2 separate regions of the Homo sapiens genome follow, and region 2 is linked to region 1. The links come from fine-mapping of genetic effects on gene expression. Tissue or cell type: cerebellum. Region 1 holds a variant in brackets; the other region holds the start of a gene. All regions are shown on one strand. Distances are from middle to middle.

What was found. PIP is the estimated chance that this variant, and not a neighbour inherited with it, causes the effect.
Region 2: it holds the start of MRGPRE, and the variant in region 1 is fine-mapped to the expression of MRGPRE in cerebellum (GTEx, PIP 0.99).

What each region holds. Positions count from the first base shown.
Region 1 is chr11:3,205,151-3,213,255 of GRCh38, reverse strand. No RefSeq gene overlaps it. Among named protein-coding and RNA genes, the nearest start is that of MRGPRG-AS1, 9.1 kb to the left of the region's middle. The variant G/T (reference allele first, on the strand shown) is at 4,017.
Region 2 is chr11:3,228,929-3,237,033 of GRCh38, reverse strand. MRGPRE (MAS related GPR family member E) reads left to right here and starts at 4,617. Exons shown (of 2, transcript NM_001039165.4): 1 at 4,617-4,893.

The sequences.
Region 1 (8,105 bases):
TTTCCCATTGGATTGCATTGGCATCTGTATTGTAAATCAACTGATTGTATAGGGTGGGTCGACTTCTGGACTCTATTCTGTTGACTGCTCTATTTCACTGTCCTTCTATCAACACCGCACTGTCTTCATTACTGCAGTTTTACATTAAGTTATGAAATCAAGTGGTGTTACTCCTACACTTTTATATTTCTTCTTCAAGATTTACATTTCTATATAAATTTCAGAATCAGCTTGACAGTTTGTGCAAATGTCTACTGATTTTGACTGGGATAGCATTGACTCTATTCAGTTACTCTGGATCAACTTATGGAGAACGGACGTCTTGGCAACATTGAGTTTACCAATTTATGAACATGGTTTTTCTCTGTTTATTGTGGTCTTCTTTCATTTCTGTCTCTGTAGTTTTCACTGTAGGTGTGTTATACATTTCAGGTAAAATGTATTGCTAGTTATTTAAGGTTTCTCAATGCTATGTAAAAATAATCTTTTATTTGCTTTTTCCAATATTCATTGATAGTTTGTATATTGTTTGTATATTGATAGTTTGTATTATTTTTGTATATTGACTTTGATTTTTTTATATTTATCTAACAGCTATCCTGTGAACTTGCTGAATTCACTTATTCTAATAGTCTTTTTGAAAACTGCTTAGGAGTTTCTACGTATACAATCAAATCATTTGCATGACATTATTATTGTAAATAATGAATAATGAATAATTATTGTGAATAATAATTAAAATGATGCATGATTAATAGTGATAAATATAAGAATTAGGAAAATTTTAATAATTATAATTAACACATGATTAATAGTTATTATAAATAATAATAATTAGAAATAATTTTACTAATTCCTTTCTGGTCTTTGCACTTTTTGTTCTTTGTTTTATATCACTCATTAAGACCTCCCATACAATGTTAATAGAAATAGTAAAAGTGGACATCCTCACCTCATTCCCAACCTTTCAGGAAAGTGCTCAATGTTTTGCCATTAAACATGTTAGCTGCAGGCTTTTTGTATGTGCGCCTCATCATAGTGATATGATTCCCATCTATTCCCAATTTTCTGACTTCCTTTAATCACACATAGGTATTGAATTCCATCAACTTTTTGTTCCTTCATTTATTAATGCGACCATGCAGTTTGTCTTTGTTAGTCTGTTAATGGGAGGAATTGCACTGATTTATTTTCAAATGTTAACTTTGTATTCCTTGGATAGTCCCTGTCACGCATGTCCATGTGAAGAGACCACCAAACAGGCTTTGTGTGAGCAATAAAGCTTTTCAATCACCTGGGTGCAGGTGGACTGAGTCTGAAAAAGGAGTCAGCAAAGGGAGATAGGAGTGGGGCAGTTTTATAGGATTTGAGTAGGTAGTGGAAAATTACAGTTAAAGAGGGTTTTCTCTTGCGGGCAGGGGCAGGGGTCACAAGGTGCTCGGTGGGGAGATCATGAGACTCGTTGTCCAGGGGAGGAATGTCACAAGGTCGTTTGATTAGTTGGGGTGGGGTAGGAACAAATCACCATGGTGGAATGTCATCAATTGAGGCAGGAACTGGCTATTTTCACTTCTTTTGTGGATCTTCAGTTGCTTCAGGCCATCTGGATGTATACGTGCAGGTCACAGGGGATATGATAGCTTAGCTTGGGCTCAGAGGCCTGACAATCCCCACTTGGCCATGACATATTATCCTTTTTATATATTGGTGGATTTGATTTATGAATATTTTGAAATGGGTATTTGCATTTGTGTTCATGAGAGAGGTTGGTGTCTCATTTATTTTCTAGTGATGTCCTTTTCAGGTTTGGGCATCAATTATTTCCTCTTGCTCAACTCTGTGTAAGAGTTTGGATAAAACCAATATTATTTCACCAATGAAGCCAATTGGGTTTTTGTGAACAGGTTCTAAAACACAATTTCAATTTCTTTAACAAATATAGGGCTATTCAGATTCTCTTTTTCTTCTTGTGTCAGTTTTCTTTTTCAAGGAATTTGTCCACTTCATTTTATCTGAGTTTGAATTTGTTAGCATAAACTTGTATACCATATCCCCTTATTAATCTTTTATTGTCTATCAAATTCACATATCTCTTTTTTATTTTTACTATGGGTACTTTGCATTTTCTCCTGAAAATTCTCATTAGGGCTTTATCAATTTTAGTAATCTTTTCATAGAACCAACTTTTATTGATTTTTCCTATAGTGTTCATCTGTTTTCTATTTAATTTCTGTTTATCTGTATTTATTACATCTTTCTGTCTAAATCATGAAAGTTAAATTTGTTCTTTTTTTCTAGCTTTTTGAGTTAAGCAGCTTAGATAATTTTTTTAAATCTTTTCTTGTAGGCTGCATAATGCTCCCTACCAAGATGTTCACCCACTTGTAATATAGAAACACTCCATATGAGAGCACAGATTACCAGAATAGGCATTTTTTCATGATGCAACAATATGCTGCCTACAAGAGACACATTTTAGATTGAAAGGCACAAATAAGTTAAATGTAAAAAGATATAAAATGAGGCTGGTCACAATGGTTTATGCCTGTAATCCCAGCACTTTGGGAAGCCAACACAAGAGGATCACTTGAGCTCAGGAGTTTGAGACCAGCCTTGGCAACACAGTGAGACCTTGTCTCTACAAAAAATAAAAAATTCACCAGATGCAGTGGTGCACACCTATAGTCCCAGCTGCTTGGGAGACTGAGGCCAGAGGATCCTTTGAGCCCAGGAGATCAAGACTGCAGTGAGCTGTGATCACACCACTGCACTCCAGCCTGTCTCAATAAATTTTTATTTCTATTTATTTATTTATTTATTTATTTTGAGATGGAGTCTTGCTCTGTTGCCAGGCTGGAGTGCAGTGGTGCAATCTCAGCTCACTGCAACCTCTACCTCCTGGGTTCAGGTGATTCTCCTGCCTCAGCCTCCCAAGTAGCTGGGACTACAGGCACATGCCACCATGCCCAGCTAATTTTTGTATTTTTAGTAGAGATGGTTTTCACCATGTTGTCCAGGATGGTCTTGATCTCTTGACTTTGTGATCCACCCACCTTGGCCTCCCAAAGTGCTGGGATTACAGGCAGATATAAAATGATATTCCATGTAAACAACAACCAAAAGAGAGCTAAAATGGTTATAATAATATCAGACTAAATAAATTTAATTTAAAAAAATTGTTACTAGAGACAAACAAGGACATTATACCATCATAAAAGGGTCAGTCCATCAAGAGATACCACAACTATAAACATATATGCTCGTGGTAGGCTAAAAACAAAGCCCCCTTAAAACATATGCATGTCCTAACCCATGTAACCTGTGAATGTGAACTTCTATGACAAAAGGGACTTTGTAGATATGATTAAATTAAGGCTCTTGAGATGGATAGATGATTTTAGATTATCTGGGTGGGCCCAGGGTAACCTCAAGCGTCCTTGTAAGAGGGAGGCAGAAGATCAGGGTGAGTAGGAGGAGATGTGATGATGGAAGAAAGAGACTGGAGTGATGTGAGGACAGGGTTATGAGCCAAGGAAGGCAGGCAGCCTCTAGAAGCTGGAAAAAGCAAAGAAGAGACTCTCCCCTAGAGCTTCCAGAGGGAGTGCAGCCCCATGGACACCCTGGTTTTAACCCGGTGAGACTGGTTTCAGACTGCTGACCTCCAGGACTGTTAGATGATAAAGGCATATTGTTTTAAGCCATTGAGTTTGTGTTCATTTGTGACATCAGCAACAGGAAATTCATACAGACCATGTCCTTTCCAGCTTCTGCCTTCTTTTATTTGCTCTCCTGTATCTTCAAACGGTTGCTTTTGATTCTTCCCAGAGTTGACAGTTATTTAATAACAGCAGGACTGCTCTGATGTCAGCTACCCTACCATTACCAGAAACAGAACTCATGTTACCCTTTCTAAAATGAAAAGGATATTCTTGACTTCCAAAGCACATGGGTCCCCAAGGGTTTGCAGATCTGTACCTATCTCATAGGCTGTGTGAGGGTTAAATGAGAGAATTCAC[G/T]GCACAGGTGGTTTACAGGAAGCTGGCATGAACTGAGCCTTCAGGCATGTTGGTTATGGTCAGAAGAATAAAAGGGAGTCATCCAGGCCTACAATTTATAGGTGCATTCACAGGACTTAATGACAGGCTGGGTTTAGGGGTGCCTTGTACAGGCTGTTCCTGGGACATCCTCCCGTTCCCTTCTCCTTGTCTGTCACTGCCTCCTCCTCCAGGCAGCCACACTGCCAAGTCAGTTTCTTCCTTATGTGGACACCTGTATGTAAGCACAGTCCCAGGCAGGAGCTGAGGGTTTGCAGAATAAATAGATGCTGGATCTGGAGGGAAACTGTTCTAAAGTCCAGGGAGGCCCTGTGTCATTCCACCTGCACTGCGTCCTGGCATCCCACCTACTGGCTGACCTTAGCCAGCTAGAGCTTCCCAGAGACCCATCTGTCTGCACTGGATTCCCCTCCAACAGCTACAGGCCCCACAGCAGGGGCCCTGAGTAAAGACCCAACTCCTCCAAATTGTGTTGAGCTGCTGCCAGAAGACGTTTCATACCTTGAGACCACCTGGCATCCCTAGTGAGCATCATAGAGACCCTGCTTGGCCAGAGAGCTCACCACATGCATCACAGCAAAGGGCAGGCCCTCACGGGCCATCCCCTTGGGCCAGAGGTCAGCAACTGTTGACCTACAGACCAAACCAGTGGAGCCTGCAGATGCGCTTGGCTGGCATTCAGTAATTAAAGTCTTTTGGCGTTAGTTGCCAGCACTGAACAATAAGAAGATTTTACATTAAAATCCAGCTTTCTAGCCCTCCTGAATATCAGCGGCTGGCAGACCTGGCCCTCAATGCCACCTGGCCACAAAGGAGGAGTTGGAGAGAGTCTGGGGCTTCAGGCAGGCATGCCCTCCACCCCCGTGAGCCCTTCTCTACTGTCACCCTGAGTCCCAGGTCACCCATCATGGCACCGCACTGTTCATTTCTAGATTGAAGATATAATTGAGTGGGTTTTTTGCCACCATTTTTTGTGAGAATGGGGAAAAACAGATCCAGAAGCCTCTTGTTTCAGGAAAAAATTGGAGCTGGCCTATTTCTTTGTGGATATAATGAGTAGATAACAAGATGTGTCTGGCACTGAATTCACCTGCCATGGTAAGAATTCATCCCCCTTGGTCTGGACCCCATCCTTCTGCAATGGAGAAACTGAGGCCCAGGCAGGGTGAGACCGGCCCAAGGTCAAACAGCAGCTCAGCAGCGGTGCCTGGGGACCTAGGTGTCACCCACAGCCTCCTCTGACAGGTATGTGAGGACATCTGTAATTCTCAGAGCCACACACCCCAGGACTCTGACGAGGACTTTGTTTCAGTCTCCCAGGGCCTGAGGAGTGTAGTAGGCTCAGGCCTCCTAGAGATATGCTGTCCCAGCCCTGTCCCCCAGACAAACTTGTGGGGCTTCAGCAAGGGTGGCAGATGGCCCGTAGCTGGGCTAATGGCCTGGAAAAGGCTGCCTGCAGGAGGAGGGAGGCGGCTGCAGAGACACAGAATAAGAATACTTGACAGTGTCCTGTAGGGAGCCAGTCCCAGTCTCGCCAAAGAGGCCAGGAACCCGGAGCAGACAGATGGAGCTGTCCTCTCTGAAGCCAGCCAGCCTGGCCATGCAAGCTTTCCTCCTTTTCAGCATGTCATCACGAGGCTGCTCAGCATATGCACAGGGAGAGGGGCCAAACCCCTGCACAGTGTGGCCTTTTGGAGCTGATTTGCAGATAGGGCTATCCCCACCCCCAAAATATCGCCTCCACTGTCCTTCATAAGATCTGAAATTTCACCATTAACATCACACTTTGGGGGTAAGGTGAGACAGACGGAGCTACCAAATTGGAGAGCTAAATGGCAGGTCCCACACATGGGCTGGGACCAGGGCTGGCCAGAAACCATGAAGTGGGAAGAGCAGGTTTTCAAAATGTCACCCCAGCTGCTGTGCTGAGAGGTAGTGGGGGACCAACTAGACCTCCAGGAAAGCCCAATGCCAGTGATGCCACCTCACACCAGGTGCTTGACATAGCACCCATTTCTCTTATCATCTTAACTTCACCATCACCATCCTCACCATCACCATCCTCAACATCACCATCATCACCATCACCATCATCATCACCACCACCATCATCATTTCCATCACCATCATCATTACTACCATTCTCACCATCACCGTCATCACCATCACCATCATCACCACCACTGCCATCATCATCATCACCATCACCACCATCAACATCACCATCATCACCACCACCACCATTATCACCACCATCACCACCACTACCACTATCACCATCACCACCATCATCATCATTATCACCATCATCACCACCACCGTCATCACCATCACCATTACCATCATCACCATTATCACCATCATCACCATTATCATCATCACCATCATCACCATCACCACCATTATCATCATCACCATTATCACCATCATCACCACCACCACCATCATCACCATCACCACCATCATCATCATTATCACCATCACCACCACCACCGTCATCACCATCATCATTACCATCATCACCATTATCACCATCACCACCATTATCATCATCACCATCATCAGCACCATCACCATTATCACCACCATCACCATAACCATCATCATCATTGTCACTCCTCCTCCTTCTCCACATCCTCCTCAAAGTATTCCCAACTCTCTGCCAAGGAAAAAGGGATGAGGGAGAAAACAAGCCACCCATACCTCCTCCACACTCCACGCCTCGGCCCACAGCCAGCCCTACACCACCCTCCATGCACCTCGGTTCACGCTCCTTACACCCGAGCAACCTCCTCTACTGGGCAGGTCTCCAAATTCCCCTGCTTTGACGCCATCAGTCTCTACATCCTGCCCTGAGAGCAGCCTCCCTGGCAGGTGTACTCACTTGTATCCAAGCTCAGGTACACCTGGAGTCAGGGGCCATGTTTCTACCTTGGGGCTCCCAGGACTGGGTGCAGGCCTGCCAGGGGTTCAGCCACTGCCCAACACAAGTGGGGGAGGGAGAAGGGAGGGGATGAGAGGGAGGTGAGAGGAGGCAGGGGATGGAGCCAGGGAAATGAAAAGGGAAGGGGGGGAGGGGGATGGGGAAGGAAGTGGGAGGGAGGAGAGAAGAGAATCACGGAGAAAGGGAGGGGGCAGAAAGGAAGGAAGGGAGGAGTGTGGAAGCCAAGGAGAAAGGAGGGGAGGGGAGAAAGGGAGGGGACAAGGTGCCTGAAGAATAGCCAAATATTCGCTCTTGGCTCAGACTCATGAATTCCCTGGAAAGTGAAAACTTCCCAAGCCACACGCAGCCTGACTAAGGGCCACTCACAAACCCTGTGGCTCTCTGAGGGTGGTTTCATTCTCTCCCACAGAGAGAATAAAATGTCTGCTCAGCTGAATAAAAGGAAACCAAAATCACAGTGAATCTCCCTGTTATCCCCTGTTCTTGAGACTGGCAGGTTTTCTCTCTTCCTCCATAAACTAAATGCATCCTCTGTGTCCATTGAATCACGGAGGACACTGTGGCTAAAGTCCATTGCAAGAACTTCGAACTCTGGAGCTCAGGGCCAGCAAGCCCTAGAGAAAGCCACACTGCAAGCAGCTCCCGGCCCCAGGACCTGCCACGGAGTTTGCATGGCTGCAGTGGGTGTGAAAAGGCTCAGGATGTGGCAGCTGTGCTGTGTGTGTGGTGGTCCAAGCCCCTGTCCCTCAGACCTGCCCAAACTGCATTCCCCGCCCCTCGTTACCACTGGGTGGTGCCCCCAACCACCTTGTCTCCTTATCAGTGGGCAGGACGCTGGCGATGACCCACACTCCGCTTGGTAAAGTTGGTGGCATCTGGAAGGTTCCAGCTGGCCCCTCTGACTTCTATTAGTGCACAGGACGTCTGTCCTGTCAGGGTTCTCTGCTGAGGCCAGACGGGGGAGAGTCTGTGCAGGGACGTAGGCACTCTCGGTGGCTGATGCGGGGAGCCCCTGGCCCTGGCCAGTGAGTGCAGAATGTCCTAGAATGCCACGATTCCCCAAGATGGACAAGATGAAAACCGAAAGGACAGATGATGACATGTAC
Region 2 (8,105 bases), 24 kb before region 1:
GCTAGTATTTTGCAAGACGAAAAAAATCAAAAGTTTGCAGGACAAAAAATTCTCTTCTCTCACTGTATGCCCCCCACCCTGCTCTAAAAAAAATTATGTTTTCCAAGACTGACCAAAAAAGAAGCTCATAAACTGGCATCTTTTAAACCACTCTATCTTGCCATCCTTACGCACAAAAATGCAGAGACATAGTCTTCATCTATACAAAGGTTCTGGAAGAAAAAGCAGGAAAAAGTCCAAACAATTCAACTGATATAAATTCCCTCACATTTAAAAAAAGCAAAACCCCAGTTACACCTTATAAATCCTTCATCATTCTAAGATAAACTCAAATGGCTTACAATTCTTCCTTATATTATATGAAGTGTTTTGAGCCTATGTTCATGACAATATTGGTCTGTAGTTTTTTGTTCTTAGAATGTCTTTGTCCAGTTTGTATATCAGATTATTAGATTAATGCTGGCCTCCTAAAATGAATTGGCATGTTCCTTACTCCTGTTTTCTAAAAGAGTTTTGCAGGGTTGGGATTATTTATTTTTTGTCTATCTTATAGATTTGCCAGTGAAGCAATTTGGAACTAGAGACTTATTTGAGAGAAAGTGTTAAATTACGAGCTCATTGTTTTCATATTGAGAACTATTCATGTTTTCATTGTGTCTTTCAAAGAATTTGACCATTTCATCCAAATTGTCAAGCTTATTGGCATACAGTTTATTTTTACATTCCACCTTTACCATTTAAGTATCTGGGACCGGTAGTGGTATCCCCTCTTTCGTTACCAATATATAGGTGATTTGCAGTTTCTCTTTTTTCTTTTCTTTTTTTTTTTTTTTCTTTTCTTGAGACAGGGTCTTGCTCTGTCACCCAGGCTGGAGTGCAGTGGCCTGATCTTGGCTCACTGCAGCCTCAACCTCCCAGGCTCAAGCCATTCTCCCACCTCAGCCTCCCTCTCTTGAGTAGCTGGGACCACAGACATGCACCACCATACCTAGACAATTTTGTTTTTTTTGTTTGTTTGTTTGTTTGTTTTGTATTTTTTGTAGAGTCAGGATTGTGCTATGTCACCCAGGCTAGTATCCTAGTATCGAACTCCTGAGCTCAAGCACTTTTTGTTTTCTTAATCAGTCCATCCAAGGTTATTCCATTTTATTAATCATCTTAAATAAAACACCTTTGATGTCATTGCTTTTCTCTACAGCTTGTCCATTTGCTGTTGTCTTGACTGCCAGTCTTACCTGTGTTGTTTTCAACCTTCTCCTGATTTGGCATTTAACCTGCTGAGCCCCTTTGCCTCTTCTGGCCTGTGTTGCAGTCCGGAAGCCACCTCCAGACAGAAAGTTTGGGTGAGCATAGGGCGTGCCCATCAGCTTCCATTTTCTTGGGACCACAGTCCTGCTCGGCCTGTTGTCTAAATTCACAAACCGTGTTTTGGTTTTTTAGATTTTTATAATGGGAGGGTGATTCCAGCCCCTATTGCCCCTTTAGAACCAGAAGTAGAAGTCGTCATCCTCTTTCTTGAAGCTCCAATCCTGTCACATGCCACAGTGCTCCTGGTCCCCATGAATGTTATGATGATCAAGTCCAATAGGCAAATGGTCCCCCAAGGCACTGACTTCAACATAACCCATCACAAGTGCTTGTTTGATTGATGATGAGCCACAGAGTGGCATGGATCACCAGTGTCACTGACCAGAAACTCATCACGACAGTCAAGGCCAAGGACATGACCAAACCAAGCCTAAATTACCATGTTTCCCCTAGGACCTTTCAGTACCAGCAGGGACACAGTCAGTAGGCAGAAGCTACCTATAATTTTGAAGGGATGATCTTAAAGAATTGTTCACTAGAGACTGAAAAACCAAACACGTACAAAGGGAACACTAAGGTATTAGAGAAGAAACAACTGCAAAAAGAGCCGCCACCCCGGGCACGGGGAACAAAGGAAGGAAGTTAAAACTATTGAAATTTAGGACCAGTGGGGACGACTAGAGTGTAATTCAGGCCCCTGAGGGGGCTCCCAGCCAGTTAGTGGCCAGTGTCTCCAACAGGAAACAATGGGTCTGGTTTTTCAAGTGCTGGGAAAACTGCAGAAGTCCACTGCTGCTACAAGGTGGAGAAAGTTGCTGCGGGCCAGGCATGGTGGCTCACAGCTATAATCCCAGCACCTTCGGAGGCCAAGGCAGGAGGATTGCTTGAGATCAGGAACTAGAGACAAGCCTAGGCAATGTATCGAGACCCTATCTCTATAAAGTTAAAAATTTAAAAATTAGCCAGACAAGCCTCTGGTAGCCTGGCACTTGGTGCATGCCTGAAGTCCCAGCTACTCAGGAAGCTGAGGAAAAAATGCTTCAGCTTGCAAGTTGGAGGCTGCAGTGAGCTGTGATCATGCCACTGCACCTCAGCCTGGCCAACAGAGTGGCATTCTGTCTCAAAAAGAGAGAGAGAGAGAGTTGCTGGGGCAACTCTGACAGGGAGTGAAAGTGAAGCTCGAAAACATAAAGGAAGATGGACTAATTGGAAAGAGTCAGACAATTGGAGGGGTAGGGGAACTGGAAGGAGTGGGACAATAGGAGGGGTGGGACAATTGGAAGAGTGGGACAGTTGGAAGGGTGGGACAACTAGAATGGTAGGACAATTAAAAAGGTAGAACAATTGGAAGGAGTGGGACAATTGGGAGGGTTGGACAATTGGAACGGTGAGACAATTGGAAGGGTGGGACAATTGAAAGAGTGGGACAATTAAAACTGTGGGGAAATTGGAAGGGTGGGACAATTGGAAGAGTGAGGCAATTGGAAGGCAGTACAATTGATAGGAGTGGGACAACTGGAAGGAGTGGGACAACTGGAAGGTGAGACCATTGGAAAGGTGGATCAATTGGAAGGTAAGACCATTGGAAAGGTGGGTCAATTGAAAGAGGGGGACAATTGCAAGGGAAGGGCAATTTAAAAAGTGGGACCATTGGAAAGAATGGGGCAATTGGAAGGAGGGGGACAACTAAAAGAGTGGGATAATTAAAAGGATGAGGCAATTGGAAGGCTGGGACAATTGGAAAGAGTGGGAAAATTGGAAGGGTGGGACAGTTGGAAGGCTAATGCAATTGGAAGGTGGGATAATTGGAGGGTGGGACAACTGGAAGGAGTGGGACAAATGGAAGAGTGGGACAATTGGAAGGAGTGGGACAAATGGAAGAGTGGGACAATTGGAAGGAGTGGGACAATTGGAAGAGTGGGACAATTGGAAGGAGTGGGACAAATGGAAGAGTGGGACAATTGGAAGGAGTGGGACAAATGGAAGAGTGGGACAATTGGAAGGAGTGGGACAATTGGAAGAGTGGGACAATTGGAAGGAGTGGGACAAATGGAAGAGTGGGACAAATGGAAGAGTGGGACAGTTGGAAGGAGTGGGACAATTGGAAGGGTCGGGCATTTGGAAGGGTGGGACAGCTTTAAGGTGTAAGACAAGTGGAAGGCATGGAACTTATGAAAGGGTGGGATGGACAATTGAAAGGAGTGGCACTATTGGAACTGTGGGACAACTGGAGGGAGTGTGGCACTTAGAAGGGTGAGATATTTGGAACGTGTGGGGCGATTGGGAGCACTTCCCCCACACCCCTGGGCCATCCTTGAGTGACCACCCACTGGTAGGGCCTCCCAGAGCGGTGGCAGAGCCCAGGCATGGTTTACAGAGCCTCGGGCACCTGGCAGCTCGGATCCTGGTTTAGGAAGGGAGGATTTGAAGCTGAGACACAACTCAGCAAGCGGCACTGCTGCCTGTCAGATACCAGCCCCGCATGGACGTCAGACACCAGCGCGACACATTCATCAGACACCAGCATTGCACAGACGCCAGACGACCTGTGTGCGGCCCCTCCGTTTTGGGGATGGAGGATGCCGGTGCCCTGGGGGATGCCTGCTGATGTAGTGACAGGTCAAAGGCCACGTGCGGGAAACTTGCTCTCACTTGGTCCGCAAGAGGAGAGGTCAGGCGGACTGCGCAGAGTGGGAAACGCTCCGGAGCAAATCCGTGCTGTTTCTGCACTCTTCTCTACCTCGGAGATTTTTCTAAAGACAAAGATGAGAAAAGAGTTGCTAGGGCCTGGACTCGGGGAGGAACAGAGGCCAAAAAATGACCTTGTTTTCCTTCTCTTGGCACGTCAATTGCGATCTCCCTTAAGGCAGGGCACTGGAAGGAAAGGCACGGTCTGAAACGGGACTTGAAATCACTGAGTTCACGAGGTCTCCCGGAGCCTGACGCTGCTGTATGTGTTTGATTCTCCTCGGCCGGGGACCGCGCGGCAGCTTCTTGACACCGGCCATCTACTCTGTGCCTGCGAACGAGGCAGGAGGGACGGCCTCACGCACATCCCCGCTCCTCCCCGCGGTCCCACACTGCCTGGAGAGCTGGGGCCGGCAGCCTGTGCTCTGCGGAGAGAAAAACACATTTTTGCTGCAAGGACAAGTTCCGCCGGTAGCCCGGCTCTCAGCCGGCCCCTCCGAGGCACAGATGGAAAGAAGTGGTCCCTAAAGGGCCCTACAGGGCTTGGTGTCTCTGAGCCAGGAGTGCCAGTGAAGTCACAGCTTGGCTGGGCTCCACCCAGAGATCTCGTGGTTTCCTCTGCCTGCCAGGCCTGCCTGGAAGGCTGCAGGGAGGTTCAGGGTTTCTCTTGCTGTCCACACCTGGGCGAGAGCTGAGCGGAAGAGAAGGGGTCCTCAGAGAGACACCTTCCTGACCGGCCCCATTCCAGCTGGATGCCATGTGACTCGGAGGAGCTGGTGGACACTGAACAGGAGCCGCCCAGAGGCTCTGGGGACTGGAGCCCTCGGCCGCGGCCAGGATAGATCCAAGGCCCAGGGTCAGAGCAGGCAGGGCTCGGCCAGTCCTCTGCCCCAAACGGTGAGTAGCGCAGGTGGCTGGATCAGGGTGGGTCTCTGGGGCCGGCCCAGGCGCTCGGCATTTTCTGGGCTCTTTTGCTGGCCAGATGGTGGCAGGGGTGGGGCGTGGGCAACAGCAGATGCTATCAACAGGGAGCTCTCCAGGCTGCAGCCTCCGCCCTCTGACGGGCCGCACCACCTGGTCCGCAGCCAGCCCTGGGCTGAGTCTGGAAGAGGACGATAGCTTGGGTGATGGCTCCCCAACCCCCCACCCCCGGTGGCTCTGTCTCCTGTCTGCCTTGCTTCCTCCATGATCTAGAGTGTTCCCTGCAGGTGCAGACTCTCAAGGGGAGTCATGGGGGCAGCCGGGGATAGGCCCTCTCCTCCCTGCCACACCTGGGTGCTCAGCCTCAGGGCTTCTCAGTATTGGCTGTCTGGGCGGGACACAGAGCCACTCCTGGACCACCCAGGGATGGGGAATGCTGTGCCTCCCTCCTCTTCTGTTCCATCGTCCTTCCCCGCCTCCTCCCCTCCTTCTCCTCCCCCTCCTCCTCCTCCCTCCTGTTCTCTTCCATCGTCCTCCCCCGCCTCCTCCCCTCCTTCTCCTCCCTCTCCTCTTCCTCCTGCTCACCAAGGATGCAACAAACTCCTCTACTCCCCACAGTCCTGTAACCCAACTGTGGCGACCCTTCCTACAGAGCTCTGCCTCCCTCCCGAGCCCCCAGTGGGGCACATGGTCCCACAGGGAGACCTCCTCCAGGGTCACAGCAGAGAGGGGGCAGCAGCAGGGTCTGGCTGAGCTCCGTGGCTCTAACCCCTTGTCCCCCTGTTCTCCTCCCTGTTTCCTTCTCTGTCCCCCATCTCTTCATGCCTCTCCCCTTCCTGCACTCTCCCCTCTCCCTCTATGTCCATCGCTTCCCTGCCATGCTCTCTCCCTGGGGCCCACCCATGAGGCCCGTGTCCTCCTCAGCCATGCAGGAGGTGAGATAGGAGAGGGACCATGGCCCTTGGTGGGCCACAGGCTGGAGAAACCCCACCTGTTGCTTTGGGGCTGGAGCTTGCTGGTAGATCCCGGAGATAGCTCCGTCCATGGGTGGACGGGACTTGTGCCTGGGAGGGGGTCCACCATCAACAGACTTAAGACCTCCCAAAACTCATCTCTGCCTCCCTCTGGGCCTGAGGGTTGGTGACCCCCCCAAGCTATCCTGAGTAGGAGAGCATCTGTCCCCCTCCCCACATCTCCCCACCTGCCATGGCAGTGATGCCCCGTCTGCCCCACTCAGGGTGTCCTCCTGATGATGCTGGCCCAGGTGGGGCTCCCTCCACCACCACCTCACCTCCCACCCATGGTCTGCCTTCCCGGGGCCTTGGGTGCTAGGATGGAGCACAGGGACAGGAGGAAGAGCCCTATATCTCCAACCAGGCTTGACTCCACCCGCAGGAGATTCAGACTGGACCACGGGCAGGACTCAGCTTCCTGAGGTGCTGGGACTGGGGCCTCCTCTCCACTGAGCCCCCCACCCCCATGCCCACCCCTGAGGCGGGGACAACCTCAGGCTGTCATTTCACCCCAGTCAAACAAAAGACCACAGAGCTGAGGGTGTAAGCCGAGGGAGATGACCAGCACCTCACGGGGTGGCTGGCACCTCTGTGCTCAGCGATAGCCCCGCCCCGGGCCACCTCTCCCCAGCATCCCAGCACCGCAGCGTCCCCCTGCATGGTCTCGGGTGCTCCTATCACTGGAGGGAGACAGCAGGGGTTCTGAGCACAACCTTGAGGTGGGAAGAAGCCGCTAAGACCAGCTATGGGGGTTTCTGCTTGTACCCCCACCCTCCTCACCCCAAACCCCAGCCCTCCCAGGACACAGGAGGACCAGCCACCACCAAGGTGGGAGGGGCACCTGGTGTCGGCCCCTGACCCCAGCCAGTCTCTGGGGAGAGGCAAGGCCCCATCCCCTCTCCCCCAACCCCAAGAGGAGAAGCTGGGGTCACCAAGCACTCAGAGACACATGACGGGCCAGGTAACCACAGGGGCAGCATGGGGCCGGGTATCTGCAGGCATGTCTCCGGCTCTGAGCACCTGGCAGTCTCCTAGAGTCTATTACTTGCTGTATTTCTGGCAAAGCTGTGATGAAGACTCCGATTCCAGCCTAGGTCCCCTGGGATTTGTGCTGCCTCCCAGGACTCAGTACCCCTCCCGCAGGACCTGTCCCCGTGAGCCGACTGCCTTGGGAGGGGATGGAGGGAGGCTGGAGACGCCATGGAAGCTCAGGGCCCCTCCCAGCCCCATCATCAGACAGCTCCCTCTTCTCCCCATGGGGAAAGGGCGGGCAACGTTGAGCAGGATGCAGCCTCCTCATGTGCCCCCTACCCTGCAGAGGGCTGGAGTCCTGCTGTAGGACAGCAGGGACATGGCCAGGGGAAAGGGAGTTTTCCTGTGGCCCTGATGTGGCTGCATGGTGTGACCAAGCTGGAGGGCTGGGGACTGGGAGCCCACTGGCAAACAACCCCTCATGGATGTCAAGGAAAGGCCTCAAAGAGTTGAGGGCTGCTTTAAGATGATGACGAAAAGCCCCACAGCCACTGTAAGCTGTCCCTCTGTGGTCACACCACTCATTAGACATGGGCGGTGCCTCCTGCTCTGCCTATGACTTTAAAATAAGTCATATTTTATTCTTTGGGAGTCCAAGGCAGGCGGATCACGAGGTCAGGAGTTCGAGACCAGCCTGGCCAATATGGTGAAACCCTGTCTCTACTAAAAATGCAATAAATTAGCTGGGCATGGTGATGCACGCCTGTAATCCCAGCTCTTCGGGAGGCTGAGACAGGAGAATCACTTGAACCCGGGAGGCAGAGGTTGCAGTGAGCCGAGATGGTGCCATTGCACTCTAGCCTGGGGCAACAGAGCCAGACTCCATCTCCAAAAAAAAAAAAAAAAAAAAAAAAAAAAAGCCCATTCTGAGGATCAAGGCACCACTAGCAACAGGGAGCCCCATGGGTCTCAGACCCTCTCCCCACATCTCCTGGTCCCTGCCCCCACCTGGCCTACAGGGACCAGCCCCACGGAAGGCTCTTGAGGCCAGGTAACCATGGGGAGGGGAGGAATGGGGACACCTTCCTCCTGAGTGTCTTAGGGAAGAGAAGCTTAGGTCAGGTGGCTGAGGGTGGAAATGAGAGAGGGGTCTTCTCCTGGAGGGTCTCACCATTCCCTTGGTCACCCACCCAACTCTCATCT